Linked DNA regions of Homo sapiens. The protein of the gene in region 1 purifies or fractionates together with the protein of each later gene. This does not show direct contact. Each region holds a gene or a part of one and is shown in the gene's direction. Other genes may lie near its edges. The genes, in order: CST6 and CTSC.

What was found.
Region 2: the proteins of CST6 (region 1) and CTSC purify together in Homo sapiens (co-immunoprecipitation; 2 studies listed by BioGRID and IntAct, with this or other methods). This does not show direct contact.

Annotation. Positions count from the first base shown.
Region 1 is NC_000011.10:66,006,970-66,014,930, forward strand, and holds CST6 (cystatin-M precursor), read left to right. Parts: upstream 1-5,038; 5' UTR 5,039-5,075; coding exon 5,076-5,315; intron 5,316-5,856; coding exon 5,857-5,982; intron 5,983-6,347; coding exon 6,348-6,431; 3' UTR 6,432-6,536; downstream 6,537-7,961.
Region 2 is NC_000011.10:88,298,681-88,307,388, reverse strand, and holds part of CTSC (dipeptidyl peptidase 1 isoform a preproprotein), read left to right. Parts: intron 1-6,743; coding exon 6,744-6,859; intron 6,860-8,708. UniProt on the Homo sapiens protein: Thiol protease. Has dipeptidylpeptidase activity. Active against a broad range of dipeptide substrates composed of both polar and hydrophobic amino acids. Proline cannot occupy the P1 position and arginine cannot occupy the P2 position of the substrate.

The DNA of each region.
Region 1 (7,961 bases):
TGGCGCAGAAAGCAGACCTGGCTGGTGAGGGGTATGAGTCAGGTTGTCTCAGTGTCAGCCCGTGGTGTCCAAGAGGACATGCCTGGCCACCCACTAGCCTGGGACATAGGTGGGCCCAGAAATCAGCAAATACTGACCCCATCCCCCCATCACACCCAGCCAGAGCTTGACCCCCTCAGCTGGTCTAGTCATGAGTGCTCAGAGCCAGCCTAGAACTTCGTGTGAACCCAGCCCATGCACTCTGGGGTGCTGAAGGGCTCCTGCTGCCCCCAGAAAGGAAGTAGGGGGAGGCTACCTGGACCACCACAAGCCCTGCCCCCGGCAGCCTGCTGAGCATGGAAGGCTCCCAGCAGGTGCTTGTGACTGTTGATCCCTTTCCAGGCTGGCCCCTCCCTGTGGGGACCAGGGCTCTTTCCTGTCACTCCCAACCTTGACTGGTGGCAGCCTTGAAGAGCCAGCCAGGCCCGATTCTGGGGCTTTGCTCCCCATGCGATCTGGAGCAAGTTGCTTCACTCCCCTGAGCTACAGCCTCCTCTGCCAGCTGATAACAGGGTTGTGAAGATTCAACCAGTGAATCAGCAGCGCTTAGGAGCGCTCCTCCCCAGAGGGGAGCTTTAATCCCTGTTGGATTACAGGTTTCCTTGCTGAAAGATCTCCTTTCCAGGATATGGGGCTACAGAGCCCTGGGGGGAGGGCAATATCCTCTGCCCAACTGAAGGTTCAAGGAAGAGGGTTCTGGGGGAAGCATCGAAGCCTTGGAGAGCCTGATCCCAGAGGGAAGGAGATGTCAAGAACCTGCCCTGGTCATCTCCACCCATCAGGCCAGGGGCAAGAGAGGGGTGCTGTGGACAACCTGGGGTGGGATGTCTGGGCCACTGCAAAACTGGAGGCTCTGCCCTGTGGCCAGTACATTTGACCGACCTCAAGCTCACGCTTGGCGCAAACCTCCTGGAAGCCAGAGTGGTCCAGACGGGATGGAGTCAGGCCCTGGGAAAGTCTGCTCAGGGACACCCCATCTGCAAGAAACAACCCCTACACCATGCACAGCAGACCTCAAACCCCTGTGGAGCAGCCCAGGACTCATGCACCGGGACCCACCACTAACCTTTCCCCTTTGATCTCCCATTTCCTCCTTGTAGGAAGAGATAATAGTCATTGTCTGTGCAGAGCTGCTATGGGAATGAAAGAACATATATTGAATCCCTGGCGCAAGGCCTGGCACACAGCAAGAGTTCTTACCATTGTTAATCCTCCCCACCTTTTCTTACCAAGATACCACTTCTAGCTGTGTGACCTTAGACAAGTGTCCCGACCTCTCTGATTAACTTCTTCATCTGCAAAGTGAGGATAATGTGTACTCCCTCAGGGTGCTTGTGAGAATCAGTGGGTGAAAAGTGCTCAGAAATTGCTAGGTTGTACTGCAAAAAAAGTCCTTTGCATCAGCACAAAGCAGAGGCAGGTGGAGTGGGTGCCCTTGGTGAGTGGCAGACAGGCCTTGGCTAGTTTTTGAGAGAGCTGTTGGAGGTACCTGTGGCCATGGCTAAGCTCCAAGTGATGACACAGCAGGCCCAGGGGAGCTGCCTCTCCCACCTCGCCCCTGTGGCACGATCCTGGTACTCTTCCTCTACCCCTCCCAGGCTTTCAGCTCAGAGTCCTGGCCAGGCGTCATCCTCCTGATCAACTCAAGCTCGGCCAGCACTTCCACAAACTGGAGTCTGTCCCTTTAAGCCAGACACCTGAGGCCGCCAGGAACTTGTGACGGTTCCTTGGAATCCCAGGAAGATGGCAGAGTTGGTTTTCCACAGCTGGGCTGAGGAAGTGAGGTGGGTAGCAGGCTGGCAGCTGCCCTGGGCAGTGAGTGACCGCTGTGGTCTAGGTCTCTGTGTGGGAAATCACTTCCTTTTGTGGTCCTGGGATTCTAAGGCCCAGAATCAGGAAGGGAGGGTGACACGCTGGATGCCTACATACAATATCCATCACAGTGACAGTTGCCAGCTGCTCTTTACGTACTGTGACCTAGCACCTCTTCCAAGCCCCAGTGAAGCCCCTGGAGGCTCTAAGCACTGCAAGATCTTAGTGCCCCAGGGACAATAAGCCCCGCCCCCCAGCAACATGGAATTACAAATACAAACTACACTGAACTCTAAAATGCAGACAAATAATTCCAAGGCCTGCCTGTAATCCCAGCATTTTGGGAAGCTGAGGTGGGAGGATCTCGTGATCTCTTGAGGCCAGGCATTCGAGACCCACCTGGCACTACTGTGAGACCCCATCTCTACAAAAAAATATAAGAATTAGCCAGGTGTGGAAAAAAATTAACCAGGCATGGGGGCATGCGCCTGTGGTCCCAGCTACTTGGGAGGCTGAGATGGGAGGATAGCTTGAAGCCAGGAAGTCGAGTTATAGTGAGCTATGATAGCGCCACTGCACTCTAGCCTGGCTGACAGAGCGCTGTCACAAAAAAAAAAAAAAATTCAACAAAATCCAGACTTTTCTTGCGTTGACTACTTCAACACTGCTTTTCATCTGTTCCTTTTTTTTTTTGAGACAGAGTCTTGCTCTGTCACCCAGGTGGAGTGCAGTGGCACCATCACTGCTCACTGCAGCCTCGACCTCCCAGACTCTAGTAATCCTCCCACCTCAGCCTCCCGAGTAGCTGGGACCACAGGCGTGCACCACCATGCACAGCTAATTTATTTTAGATTTTTTGGTAGAGACGGCTCACTATGTTGCCCAGGCTGGTCTCAAACTCCTGGCCTCAAGTGATCCTCCTGCTTCCGACTCCCAAAGTCCTGGGATTACAGGTGTGAGCTACCGTGTGATTAATAGATCACCACCTATTAATAATAATCAATTAATTATTGGAGTCTTTTTTTTTTGAGATAGAGTCTTGCTCTGTCACCCAGGCTGGAGTGCAGTGGGTGCCGTCTCAGCTCACTGCAACCTCTGCCTCCCAGGTTCAAGTGATTCACCCACCTCAGCCTCCCAAGTAGCTGAGACTACAGGTGTGCACCACCACACCCAGCTAATTTTTGTATTTTTAGTAGAGATGGGGTGTTGGGAGCCGAAAGGGCCAAAGGGATTGTGACCAACTCAGCATTCCACTGAAGGCTATATGATCAAACAGCCACCTGTTTATCACGAATGCAGGATGTGGGCAAACTCCCACTGCCCTGCCACCAAAAGGTTTGCTGAGGGCCTTACTCCTTGGCACTGGGGTCCCTGAAGTTATCTACTGAGAAAATTAGCACCTATTGTTCAAAGGATGCAGTCTCACAAGCCTGCTGTGAACCAAAGTGCTGACCGACAATTACCTGACATACCCGACAATCACCCTCCCCCTTTCTCGCTATCTCTTTTGCCTACTACATACAGAGGGCTGTGTAAAGCTCAGGGCCCTTGTCCACTAGAGGCAAGGTGCCCCCTGACCCCTTCTTCCAAATATACTCTTTTGTCTCTTGTCTTTTATTCCCACGTTTGCCCGGCTTTGTTCAGTCCCCCTAGGTCCGTGCGGGCTATGATGGGGTTTCACCATGTTGGCCAGGCTGGTCTCGAACTCCTGGCCTCAAGTGATCTGCCCACCTCGGCCTCCCAAAGTGCTGGGATTACAGGCGTGAGCCACCACACCTGGCAATTATTGGAGTCTTTAAAAACACAGTCATGGGCCTTGTTTGCTGGTACCTCCAGCACATGCTCACTGTATCCACGGGACAGCCAGATTCGAAACATCAATATCAGAACAAACTTAGGAGATAAGGTGTCTTTCAGACGAGGGCACGGAGGCTCTGTGTGGGAGGTTGAGGGACTTGCCCAAAGCCATGCCGTCAGTAAGATGGCAGAGCTGACATGACTGACACCCCCTCCTTCTGGGCAGTTTGTGTCCTGTGGGCTCAGTCTGGTTTAAGACCACAGATTTGACTTAGACTGTCAGCACACACAAGCCAGTGTCACCATTTATTTCCTGCCGGTGTCTTTGGGCAAATCCATTTTCCCTTCTCTGTAAAGTGGAAACTATTTTTTTTCTTTTTTCTTTTTTTTTTTTGTGAGACAGAGTCTCTCTCTGTCACCCAGGCTAGAGCGCAGTGGTGCCATTTTGGCTCACTGCAACCTCTGCCTCCCAGGTTCAAGCAATTCCCCTGCCTCAGCCTTCTGAGTAGCTGGGAATTCAGGTGTGTGCCACCACGCCTGGCTAATTTTTGTATTTTTGGTAGAGACGGGGTTTCACCATGTTGGCCAGGCTGGTCTTGAACTCCTGACCTCAAGTGATCTGCCTGCCTCGGCCTCCCAAAGTGCTGGGATTACAAGTGTGAGCCCTCATGCCCGGCCTTCTTTTTTTTTTTTTTTTTTTTTTTTTTTTTTGAGTCAGCGTCTAGCTCTGTCGCCCAGGCTGGAATGCTGCAGTGGTGAGATCACGATTCACTGACTTGAACTCCTTGGCTCAAGTGGTCCTCCCACCTTGGCCTCTCAAAGTGCTGGAATTACAAGCATGCCTAGGTGCCTGGCCAGGTAGAAACATTAGTCACTCGCGCTCCAGGAAGGTTGTCAGGCAGCGCTGAGCAGTAATGTGTCCTACTCACCTGCTGTTTATCCAGCACCAGACCTCTTCTAAGAACTTTACCTGTTTCAGCTCACTGAATCCTCACAACACCCATTGTACAGAAGAGGAAACTGAGGCAGCGAGTGGTTAAGTGACTTCTCCGAGGTTACACAGCTAGGAAATGGTGGCAACAGTAAGAGCCCACGAAGAGCTGCGGTTGGTAGTTCATTCTGGACAGCCCTCCCGTGAACCGTCCCTGTACTGGCACTTGTTGCTGGGGACTGTCGCTGTCCTCTCCCTCCCCGGGCCAGGTGTGTCCTGGAGGGCAGGGAAGCGTCTTGGCACGCGGGTGCGCGCCGCCCCCTCGGCCTCCTGGGCTCCCTGAACCTCGCAGGACCCCGGCAACTTCGAGCCCCGCCCCAGCTCCAGGCCGCGGGGGCGCATCGCGGGCGTCGGGCGGGGCGGCCCAGCGGGTAAAAGCTGCGCGGCCGCAAGCTCGGCACTCACGGCTCTGAGGGCTCCGACGGCACTGACGGCCATGGCGCGTTCGAACCTCCCGCTGGCGCTGGGCCTGGCCCTGGTCGCATTCTGCCTCCTGGCGCTGCCACGCGACGCCCGGGCCCGGCCGCAGGAGCGCATGGTCGGAGAACTCCGGGACCTGTCGCCCGACGACCCGCAGGTGCAGAAGGCGGCGCAGGCGGCCGTGGCCAGCTACAACATGGGCAGCAACAGCATCTACTACTTCCGAGACACGCACATCATCAAGGCGCAGAGCCAGGTGCGGCGGGCGGGGTGCTGGGAGGGGACACCCGGCCCAGATGGGGGAGGCCACAGGCGCTGCCCCAGCGTGCATGAAGGGGGCCTAAAAGCGCAATCGGGATATTTTCATGCAATATTTTAAAAATCGAATTAATGCTAAAACTCCACGATGGACAACCATCTAAATTTCAAGGAAAGACATAATTAAACCCTGTATTGCACTACCTGCCTTCCTGGCTTGCCTGGTCCTAGTCTCTGCCCTGATGGGGTGGATCGGGGAGGAGGGAAGGCAGGTGGGGACAGTGGGCAGCTCCCTAGATGGGGCATGTCTGATGTCTGCCAAGGCTGCTGGTGGGGCTCAGCCTCCAGGCCTCTCCACCCTCCATCCCCACCAGAACTCCCCCCCCCACCCCCCCCCACCCCCCCCCACCCCGTCTGAATCATCCCCTCTCCCTCTCTCCCCACCTGAGTGCCTGGGGGCAACAGGAGAATATATCAAGAGGTGAGAAGTGAGGATCAAGGGTCAAGACCCCTGACCTGCCCCTACCCTATGCCCCCAGCTGGTGGCCGGCATCAAGTACTTCCTGACGATGGAGATGGGGAGCACAGACTGCCGCAAGACCAGGGTCACTGGAGACCACGTCGACCTCACCACTTGCCCCCTGGCAGCAGGGGCGCAGCAGGAGGTAACAGCTGGGCTCCTCCAGCCCCAGCCCTCCCCAGAGCCTCAGGCACTCAGGTTGTCCATCCTGAACTGGTTTGGCTGGACACGTAGATGTCTAGATGTCTGGCTGAACCTGTCGTCCTTCTGGATGAGTCAGCCTCTGGGCCAAGATGGGGTGCAGAAAGGAAGCTGGGGCTTCCCTCGGGAATGGGGAAGTTGGCTACCAAGATCTGGAGTCTAGCCCCAGACATGCGGCTTGACATCCGTTGGGTCAGTGATTGTCCCTCTCTTGGCCTGGAGCAGCCTGGCAGGCAGAGGGCTGGCTGTTGGGAGGAGACAGGTCGAGGCTGGGCTCACCCCTCCTTCTCCCCCATATTCCCTCCACAGAAGCTGCGCTGTGACTTTGAGGTCCTTGTGGTTCCCTGGCAGAACTCCTCTCAGCTCCTAAAGCACAACTGTGTGCAGATGTGATAAGTCCCCGAGGGCGAAGGCCATTGGGTTTGGGGCCATGGTGGAGGGCACTTCAGGTCCGTGGGCCGTATCTGTCACAATAAATGGCCAGTGCTGCTTCTTGCATTGGTTTCTTCCAAGTGCTTCGCTTCTGCCCCCATCCCCCACTCCCACTTCTGGCAGCTCCCAGCTCCCCAGCCCAAGCTGAGAGGTCACCCTGCCACCTGCAGCAGAGCTGCTGCTGTCCCAGCCCAGACAGTGCTGAAGGTGCAGGGCTGAGCCTCCAAATGTGGAGCCCCCAAACACCCCAGCATCACAGGCATAGAGGAACAAACCTTAGAGCCCCCACACACAGCCAGAGACTCCCAATATTCTCAGAGGTCAGGGGTGGCGGCAGACTCACAGAGGAGGGGCGATGGCCTGAGATAAGAACAGGGCCGGCTGCCTGGGAGCACTCTGAGGAGGAGTCTGTGCTGTGCTCCCACTCAGCCCCAGGAGGAGCTCATGGGTGGCATGGGGGGCTTCAATCAGGCAGTGTCCTCACCCAGGACACTGAGCTCCCAGCCTATAAAGATTCCTCCACCTGCATGTGGCCCAACGATGGCAGAGTCCCTGCAGGCCAAGAGACCATGAAGGCTAGGACAGTGCCTCTCAGTCCACACTGTGGGCTCCACGCCACAAGGACGCCTCTCTTGCCTTGCCCTGGGCAAGACGCCTGAAAGGGGCTAGACTAGGAGCCGCAGAGGGACAGAGATTGTCTAGCGCCCACAGGAGGGGTGAGGGGACAGATTCAATGTAATGTCATTTAAAGAAAACAGCATTGCAGCCGGCCTCACACCTGTAATCCCAGCACTTTGGTAGGCTGAGGTGGATGGATCACCTGAGGTCAGGGGTTCAAGACCAGCCTGGTGGCCGGGCGCGGTGACTCACGCCTGTAATCCCAGCACTTTGGGAGGCCGAGGCGGGCAGATCACGAGGTCAGCAGATCGAGACCATCCTGGGTAACACGGTGAAACCCCGTCTCTACTAAAAATACAAAAAATTAGCTGGGTGTAGTGGCGGGCGCCTGTAGTCCCAGCTACTCGGGAGGCTGAGGCAGGAGAATGGCGTGAACCCGGGAGGTGGAGCTTGCAGTGAGCCGAGATGGCGCCACTGCACTCCAGCCTGGGCGCCAGAGCCAGACTCCATCTCAAAAAAAAAAAAAAAAAAAAAAAAACCAGCCTGGCCAACATGGTGAAATCCCATCTCAACCAAGAATACAAAAATTATCTGGGTGTGGTGGCAGGTGCCTGTAATCTCAGCTACTCAGGAAGCTGAGGTAGGAGAATCGCTTGAATCCAGGAGGCAGAGGTTGCAGTGAGCCGAGATTGCGCCACTGCACTCCAGTCTGGGAGACAGAGCGAGACTCCATCTCAAAAAAATTAAAAATAAAAAAAGAAGAAGAAAACAGCATTGCAACATTTGCACATCTGAATTTGTGGCTGCAATTCATACCCCCCCATACATATACACACGCACACACCCAAAGCACAACACACCAGACATACACAC
Region 2 (8,708 bases), about 22 Mb from region 1:
TGGATCTAGCTTAGGATCTACATCTATCTAATATAGTTCCTTAACATTTGTTAAATGGCCACGGATAAGTCCTGTAATGCCATACTTTGCTTTAGGATCATGTGACTAAGGGGTAAGGAATTGGAAAGCAATGGGGAGCTAGCAGAATTTGAAAAATTATATAGGTAGGTTATTTTTCCTTAATACATTGAAATAGCCTCAAATTCTCAGAGAATACAATGTTTAATCCTCTAATATCTGTAGAGTTCATGGCTCAAATTTGTATTATTTGAATAAACTACTAATAGATTAATAATTACTCAACTAAAACACTTTGAAATGTGAGAGTTCCCTTATCTCCCTCGCAGGCATATGACAGAGGTGTGGCTTCTCACACCTTTGGTTGCCCTTGCCCTACCACCCAAACCCCTAGGGGGAGCATGCAGAGGGGCAGGTGCAGAGGCCATGGGGGGTGCTTTTGGGCTCTGGCCCCACAGCAGTGTCTAGGAGTGGATGTTGGAGACTCCTGAAGCCCAAGTGGGCATGTGTTACAGTGTGCTCTTTCAGCTTAGCCGTCTGCAGATGGCTTGTGTTAATCAGGTCATTAGACCCCATGCCTTATTGCAAGGGCAGGGGTCCAATGTGACAGCCTAAGTTCTTGCTCAGTGTACCAGAAGAATTGGATCACACGTGGGCTGGAAGGATGAGCACAAGGTTTTATTGAGTGGTGGAGGTGGCTCTCCGCGAGACGACTCTCAGCCAGAGAAGGAGGATGGAGGGGAAAGGTGTTCTTCCCCTGGAGTCCACTTGTTCCTGTTCTCCTCTGGGTTCAAATACCTCTTCCCTCCTTTTCTGCTGTGCTGTCCCACCACTCTCCACAGCTCTGTGCCGCTCTGTTCCTCTGCTCCTCTGGATGTTCAGCTCCTTGTATCTGTGCCTGCTAAGATTTTGGGTTTATATGGGGGAAGGATGGGGGGCATGGCGGGCCAAAAGGCACCTTTTTTGGTGTGAAAACAGAAATGCCTGTCTTCTCTTAGGGCCTTAGGTCTTCAGGCTTGAGGGTGGGGCCTTTGCTGAGGGACCACCCTCTTCTACCCAGTATTTCCCTGTCTCCTGTCCATATCAACATTACTAACTTTTTCATCTGCAGACTAATAATGCTAAGGTGTGGCATTTTTCAACTGTGAGACTATGTGAAGGTTTTTCCTGTCCAACTGATGGCATCCTCCCATAATTCTACCCCTTTCTTAAAAGAATCTTTTGCAGTATTTCTCCAAGTTTATTCTAGAGAATTTCTTGTCTGTGAAATGCTCTAGTTAATCAAAATTGGAAAACGGAGCATATCATATCCCCTTCTCAAATTCACCAAAGTGAAGTCCTAATGTGTCTTAATGTATCTGCATGAGACAGGAAGCTGAGATCTATTCAACAACAAAAATCCAAACAAGCATCAAGAGGAGGAGTGTTAGCACTTGAGCCTAGGGAGACTGTGGCTCCTGCCTGAAAGATGGGAGCCTCAGTCACAGCTGCTTTACCAAGTGTCATATGCTATGTTTCTGAGGACTCCTGCTAAAGCTCCCTTCTCCCTCCAGCCAACCACTTTTGTTTTAGACAAGGGCTGGGTTTATGAAGGACTGTTTTCATGACTAAAGCTTTATAGAAGGTTTAAGATAAGGAGATGGAATTGAGTGAAGTAGGAAATATGAAAGCAGATATTATAATCTGGCTTCCTGATTTTTCACTAGCATTTTTGTTTATAAATTAGTTCTGTTCTAAGAATCCAATGACGTAATAGAAACTCTCAAAGATTCTTAACTTGAGATATAGGGAGTCTTTGAAACTGCTGAAATTACAGACAGCATTTATTGTTTATGAGCATTTCTGAATCTAGAGCTTTCACTAGATTTGTAAAGAATGTGGGCCAAAAGATTAAGAGCCAATCCTGTATCTTGTACTCAAAATGTTTGTAATTCTCACCTTTTTATCCCCCAGACTCCTCTTGCTCTCTCTTCATTTTCACAGTGTTACTGGAAAGGGGTCCTGATCCAGACCCCAAGAGAGGGCTCTTGGATCTTGTGCAAGAAAGAATTTAGGGCGAGTCCTCAATGCAAAGTGAAAGCAAGTTTATTAAGAAAGTAAAGGAATAAAAGAATGGCTACTCCATAGACAGAGCAGCCCTGAGGGCAGCTGGTTGTCCATTTTTATGGTTATTTCTTGATTGTATGCTAAACAAGGGATGGATTATTCATGCCTCCCCTTTTTAGACCATAGAGGGTAACTTCCTGACATTGTCATGGCATTCTTTTTTTTTTTTGACAGAGTCTCACTGTGTTGTCCAGGCTGGAGTGCGGTAAAGCAATCTTGGCTCACTGCAACCTCTGCCTCCTGGGTTTAAATGATTCTCCTGCCTCAGCCTCCCAAGTAGCTGGGATTACAGGCATGACCCACCATGCCCAGCCAATTTTTGTATTTTTAGTTGAAACAGGGTTTTGCCATGTTGGCCAGGCTGGTCTTGAACTCCTGACTTCAGGTGATCTGCCTACCTTGGCCTCCCAAAGTGCTGCAATTACAGATGTGAGCCACCAAACCTGGCCTGTCATGGCATTCTTAAACTGTCATGGTGCTGGTGGGAGTGTAGCAGTGAGGAAGACCAGAGGTCACTCTCATCGCCATCTTGGTTTTGGTGGGTTTTAGCTGGCTTCTTTACTGCAGCCTGTCTGTTCTATCAGCAAGGTCTTTATGACCTGAATCTTGTGCTGACCTCCTATCTCATTCTATGACTTAGAATGCCTTAACTGTCTGGGAATGCAGCCCAGTAGGTCTCAGCCTCATCTTACCCAGCTCCTATTCAAGATGGAGTTGCTCTGGGTCAAACACCTTTGACAACATCATTAAGCCTCAGTTCTCACACTGTTTTTGTTTTGTTTGTGTGTGCAATGATGGGCAAATCTCTGCCTTATAGGATGGTAGAAAAAAGGAACTTAATATTGTAATGACTGTTTTGTGCCAGATAATTGCTTTAAACTGTATCAGCATCTTATTTAGTCCTGTTAATGATATGAATGTTATCTTCATAACAGCTGCCATTTTATTAAGGACTTATCAGAGAAAAACACTGTTCTAAGCACTTGTTACCCATTATTACATTGAATTTTCATAACAACCCTTTGAGGTAAGCATGATTATACCCACTTTAATAGAAGTGAACTGTAGTTTTGTAATGTTAGGTTCCTTGCCAAATGTTACACAGATAGTAAGTGATAAAATCATATGCCCTGAAATTACATTATGCTGCCAAACTTAAATTTCTTTTTTATCCTTTATATTAGTATATTCTTAGGTTTAAACAAGACAACTAGTTAACACATACTAGATTTTGTCCACAGTTCCTGGCTCATAACTCCCATAGCCCTTGTCACTATCTTTTAACGTTGGGGCACATTAGGCCTCAGAAGTAGGCCTCAGAAAACAGAGTCTCTCTCTCTCTCTCTCTCTGATCTTCTTCCGCCCTCCTCTCACCTGCCCAGGGCAGCACTCTAATCTTCTCCTGCCTTTCTGATCTTGGGTCATAAGACCTTCATTTCCAAAGATGTCCTGTGTCATACCCTAAAGGAAGGAACACTGAACAGAGAGAGGCTCAGAAGAATCTGGACAGGCCTTGCTGTGTTTACATCATTCCCTTTATGTCCAGTCACATCTCTACATGGTTGTCAGTTGTGCCTATTTGATGAAGTCCCCATATAAGGCTCACAAGGACAGGGTGCAGAGAGCTTCCAGATAGCTGAACAAGTGGAAGTTCCTGGAGGGTGGCGTGTTCAGGGAGGGCATGGAAGCTGTGTGCCCCTTCCCCCATACCTTGCCCTACTCATTTCTTCATCTGTTTCATTTGTAGTATCTTTTATAATAAACCACTAAACATTAGTTAGTATTTCTCTGAGTTCTGTGAGTCACTCTAGCAAATTAATTGAACCCAAGGAGGGTGTCATAGGATCCCCACATTATAGCTGGTTGGCCAGAAGCACAGGTAAACAACCTAGGGCTTTCAATTGGCATGAGAAGTAGGGGGCAGTTTTGTGGGACGGAGCCCTCAGCCTGTGAGATCTGATGCCATCTCTAAGTACACAGTGTCAAAACTGGATTGGAGGACACCCAGCTAGTATTCACTGTGAAATTGGTTGCTTGCTTGATTTGTGGGGAAAAACCCACATGCATTTGATCACAGAAGTCTTTTGTGTTGACAGTTGATAGTGTTCAGTGAGAGAATTAAAAAAAAATTGAGTTTCTTCTTCAACATACTCTCTCAATGTGAAACCACAGAAACTATTTCCATTCAAAGATGGAAATGGTTTGTTTGCATCTTAGTTTTTATTTATACATCTTAGAAGAAATGTCCAAGCTTTGTTTTTTCTCTCACCCTATATATAAAATTACCTATGAGGCACAGATTTTTATGATCCTTGATTATATAGACTTTGTCCAAATTGTGTGTTTTATAGCATTACTGTAACTTGTTATAGTAATCTTTGTGTATATTATGTCTCTTAACATTGTCTTCCATATTGTTAATGACCATCTCATATTTATCTCTGTATCATGTATATCTTCAACCAATGTGACTGGCTTAGGAGAAAAAATTAGTGAACAATTAACTAGTGTTTGTGTAATCTATACAATTGTCAAGGTTACAATTGCTATTTTTGAAGAAATCGTTGTTGTTTTTCTCTTTGTTTCATCTCAGTTCCATTTTGTCATGTATTCTTTTTTTTTTTTTTTTTTTTTTTTTTGAGGCGGAGTCTTGCTCTGTCACCCGGGCTGGAGTGCAGTGGTGCAATCTCGGCTCACTGCAAGCTCCACCTCCTGGGTTCATGCCATTCTCCTGCCTCAGCCTCCCGAGTAGCTGGGACTACAGGCACCCGCCACCACGCCCAGCTAATTTTTTTTTGTATTTTTAGTAGGGACGGGGTTTCACTGTGTTAGCCAGGATGGTCTCAATCTCCTGACCTCGTGATCCGCCCGCCTCGGCCTCCCAATGCTGGGATTACAGGCGTGAGCCACCGCGCCTGGCCCCTTGTCATGTATTCTTAACCTGTGTTATATCTAAGAGAAGCTGTGAGAGACGGGACCATTTGTGGATAGGTGCAGAGGGCATGAAGTAGCCCAGAAAGAATCTTTGCCATTGACTAAATTTTAGCCTAGTAAAAAACATCTGGTAACCACTGAAAAACTAGAACAGTGTGATATGACAATGCCCAGTTGAATAAGAAATTCAAATAGTTTATAGTAACAAAAAATAATTTTTACCACATTGTGACTAGTGCCCTAAAAACAAATTTGAAGGAGCAGAGAGAGAGAGGAAGTGAGTTTTCGCTGGGGGCTGGTGAGTGGAGGCTACTTTATGAGCAGTTTTGAAAATTACAAGTTAGGGAAAAACTCTTAGGGGAGTTTTAAGTGGTGAGCAACAGGCACTTGAGGTTACAGGAGCAGCAGCATAAAGATATAGAACAGAGAGGCCATTTGGCAGTCTTGGGGAAACTCCAAGAAGTCGAATGTGTCTAAAGCTGTGGTTCTCTCTCTGTGTGTGTGTGTGTGTGTGTGTGTGCGCGCGTGTGTTTGTGTGTGTGTGCATGTGTATGTATGTGTGAAATCGCTAATACAGAGAAGCTGTTAGAACAATTTTCTCACTTCCCAAAAATGTCCGTTCATTCATGGGCCTAGGCAACTCTCCTTTGTGTGTCTTACAGCCCAACACTGTCATATAAGGTGTGGTTCTATAATGAAACAGTTTTATCTGTTGTTTACGGAGCTAGTCAGCCTGTGTTATGCTTGTTACTGGTTGAGGGTGTCCAGGTTCTTGGCTTCTTGAACAAAGAATTGGACAAAACTCACAAATGAGGCAAGGAAAGAATGAAGCAACAAAAGCGGAGATTTATTGAAAATGAAAGCACACTCCACAGGATGGGAGTGGGCCTAAGTAAATGATTCAAGGCCCTGGTTACAGAATTTTCTGGGGTTTCAATACCGTCTAGAGGTTTCCCATTGGTTACCTGGTGTATGCCTTATGTAAATGAAGAGGGTGGAGTTAAGTTACAAAGTCATTTACTCAGTATAGGCCTTGTGTTAATGGAGAGGGTGTTACTCCTGGGGGTTGTGGCCCATGTAAACGGAGAGGATGAAGTGAAGTGACAAAGCCCTTCGCATTCCTGCCATTGCTGAAGTGTTTCCACTTTATTTAGTTCTAGGAAGTCAGTGTGAATTGGCCTTATGTTCCCTGCCTCCAGAACCTGTTCTCCTGCCTCACATAGACCCTTTTTTCCCTTTGCCAACTTCACTTCTTTTACAGCCACCTCACTACCAATGTGTCTGTCTCCTAAGTCAAACATCAGTGATTCCTCTGTTTTCTCTAAACCCTTCTTATGTCTTCTACTTCTCATCTCTTTCTTGGTCAAAAATCTTTCAAAAATGAGTAAGAATGCAGCTATTCAGGCAAACTAAAAATAACATCACAGTGATATACAAAACCAGTGTCATTTCACAAAGGAAAATTATCAATACTAGATCCTGAAAAAGAAACAGCGAATGAAAGCCATTTACACAACTCCATTGTGTAATTGACACATTGAATCACTCATAAAACAGGTGCTCTGGGTCTGAATCTAGATCCTAGCTAGTCTGGTAGCTGAAATCATAGAATTATAGTAGAGTTTAGGAAATCATCCTCAAAGGAAAGATTATATGTTGATATCAAATGTATATTTCCTTTCTAGGCCCAAACCTGCACCACTGACTGCTGAAATACAGCAAAAGATTTTGCATTTGCCAACATCTTGGGACTGGAGAAATGTTCATGGTATCAATTTTGTCAGTCCTGTTCGAAACCAAGGTAAAAAAATAAGCCTAAGTTTTTTGTTAATTTGTTTGGAACTATTTATTGAACAGTTGCTCTGTGTGATGGATTTCGGGGATACCTAGATGGAATGGGCATGATCCCCTTTTTACAGAAATAGAAAATAGGTGGCCTATGAATTATTCTTTCCTTTTATATCCATGACAAACTTTAGTAAAAAATTTTCTTTTCTACTGAGCTTAGCATTTATTCAGTACTCTTCTCAATATATTTTCCAGGTAGCTAGTGACAATCAGAGTGATATGTAAGACAAACTCATTTGTCCTCCTAGTAGGAAAGATTCTAGTAGAAGCAAAGAATTGTGTACCATTCTGCAAGTGGTTTGTTGGAATCTTTCTTTGATACCTGTTCCTGTATTCCCCCACCCCCATTAATTTAGTCATTAATTACTACATGAACCCGTAAAATAAATCCTTAAATTATTTTCCTGGTAGATTTTTTGAGCTGTGTAAGGACCTTTCAATTCACTTTACATTAGAATACGATATGTGATGGTAAGTATTAACCCAGCTTCCTGAGTGATGGCGTGAGGGCGGAACCCAGGTTCATGAAAAGTATTCCTATTATTGAATTTTACCAGTTATTTTCAGAAGTTTGATACAATGTGAGTTGATTTCATAACATGTCCTCTAACTGCACTTGATAGCAAATTATCTTGTTATCCTGAGTTGTAGCCAACAATGACTTGGAGAATCTATGCAATACTCAGTTTTATTACTTCTAAGCTCATTTTGAAGATAATACTACCCATGGCTGATTTGTTACTATAAAATAGGTTTAGTATTTGCTGTCTGGAAACATTCTGATTAGTGTCTCCTGGGAGGATTATAAATTTATAGTACCCAAAGATAAACTGTTGTTTCCCTTTCCTAAACTTTTAGTGATAATCAGTCTCTGCCGTGTCTCATTTTCATCACTTGCCCTCCAAGCTCCCATCTCACTGAATTCTTGCAGTGTTCTGAATGTTGAGAGCCCCAAGTGGGTCTTATAACAGCCAGTCAGCAACATTTCTGTTTTTCATCTGACACCAAGGGTCTCGTCTCTTTGCTTTTCTACCAGTTATTCTGGGCTCTTCAGCTCTAAAGAAAGTATAGGTCCTGAAATCTTTCCCTACCTTCTCAATTTCCTGGGGAGGGCTTCTTTGGAAAGTGGGATTGGAAATAAGATAAATTTGAAGATAATTGAGAAATGAATGGAAAGTGAAATTGAAGGGTCCATGTTAAGAGATTGCAAGTTATGCTATCACCAAATAGATTTTTTGTGCCTGAGAGGATTAATTCATAGTGCATATTATGTGTTGACTTTATCATTGAGGTCCTGGCACATGATAGCATTGGCATGATATAATTTGAGCTACTGATACTATAGTGTTGCTTCTGGTGTTGTTACCAGAACATCTAAAATATATTAGGATTTTTTTAATGGCAGAGGAAATGAAGACTAATATGACATAGTCCTTGTCCTAGTGATTTACAGTTTAGCAAGACATACAAGCAAAACATTAAAGTAAAGCATGATAACTACTTTAATAAAGCATTTTTTAAATTCATTGGTAACATAAGAGAAGGTAGAAGAGTTTAGCAAACCCTTCCCAAAAGAAATGATTGACAAGTTATATGAGATAATAATTCAGGGAAAGGAAATTCGACTTTCTAAAGCCAAATTATTTGACATTGGTTTTCATATAGCTTGGTAAAAGCTGTTATTTTCTCCCATGTTCTTTATTCTTTGACTGTTATAAGTATGATTTGTACAGAGAAATGGCAATTTCAAAACAGAGGGCTTTGATGGATTAATTGCTTTGAATTGATCCCTCATCTACAGT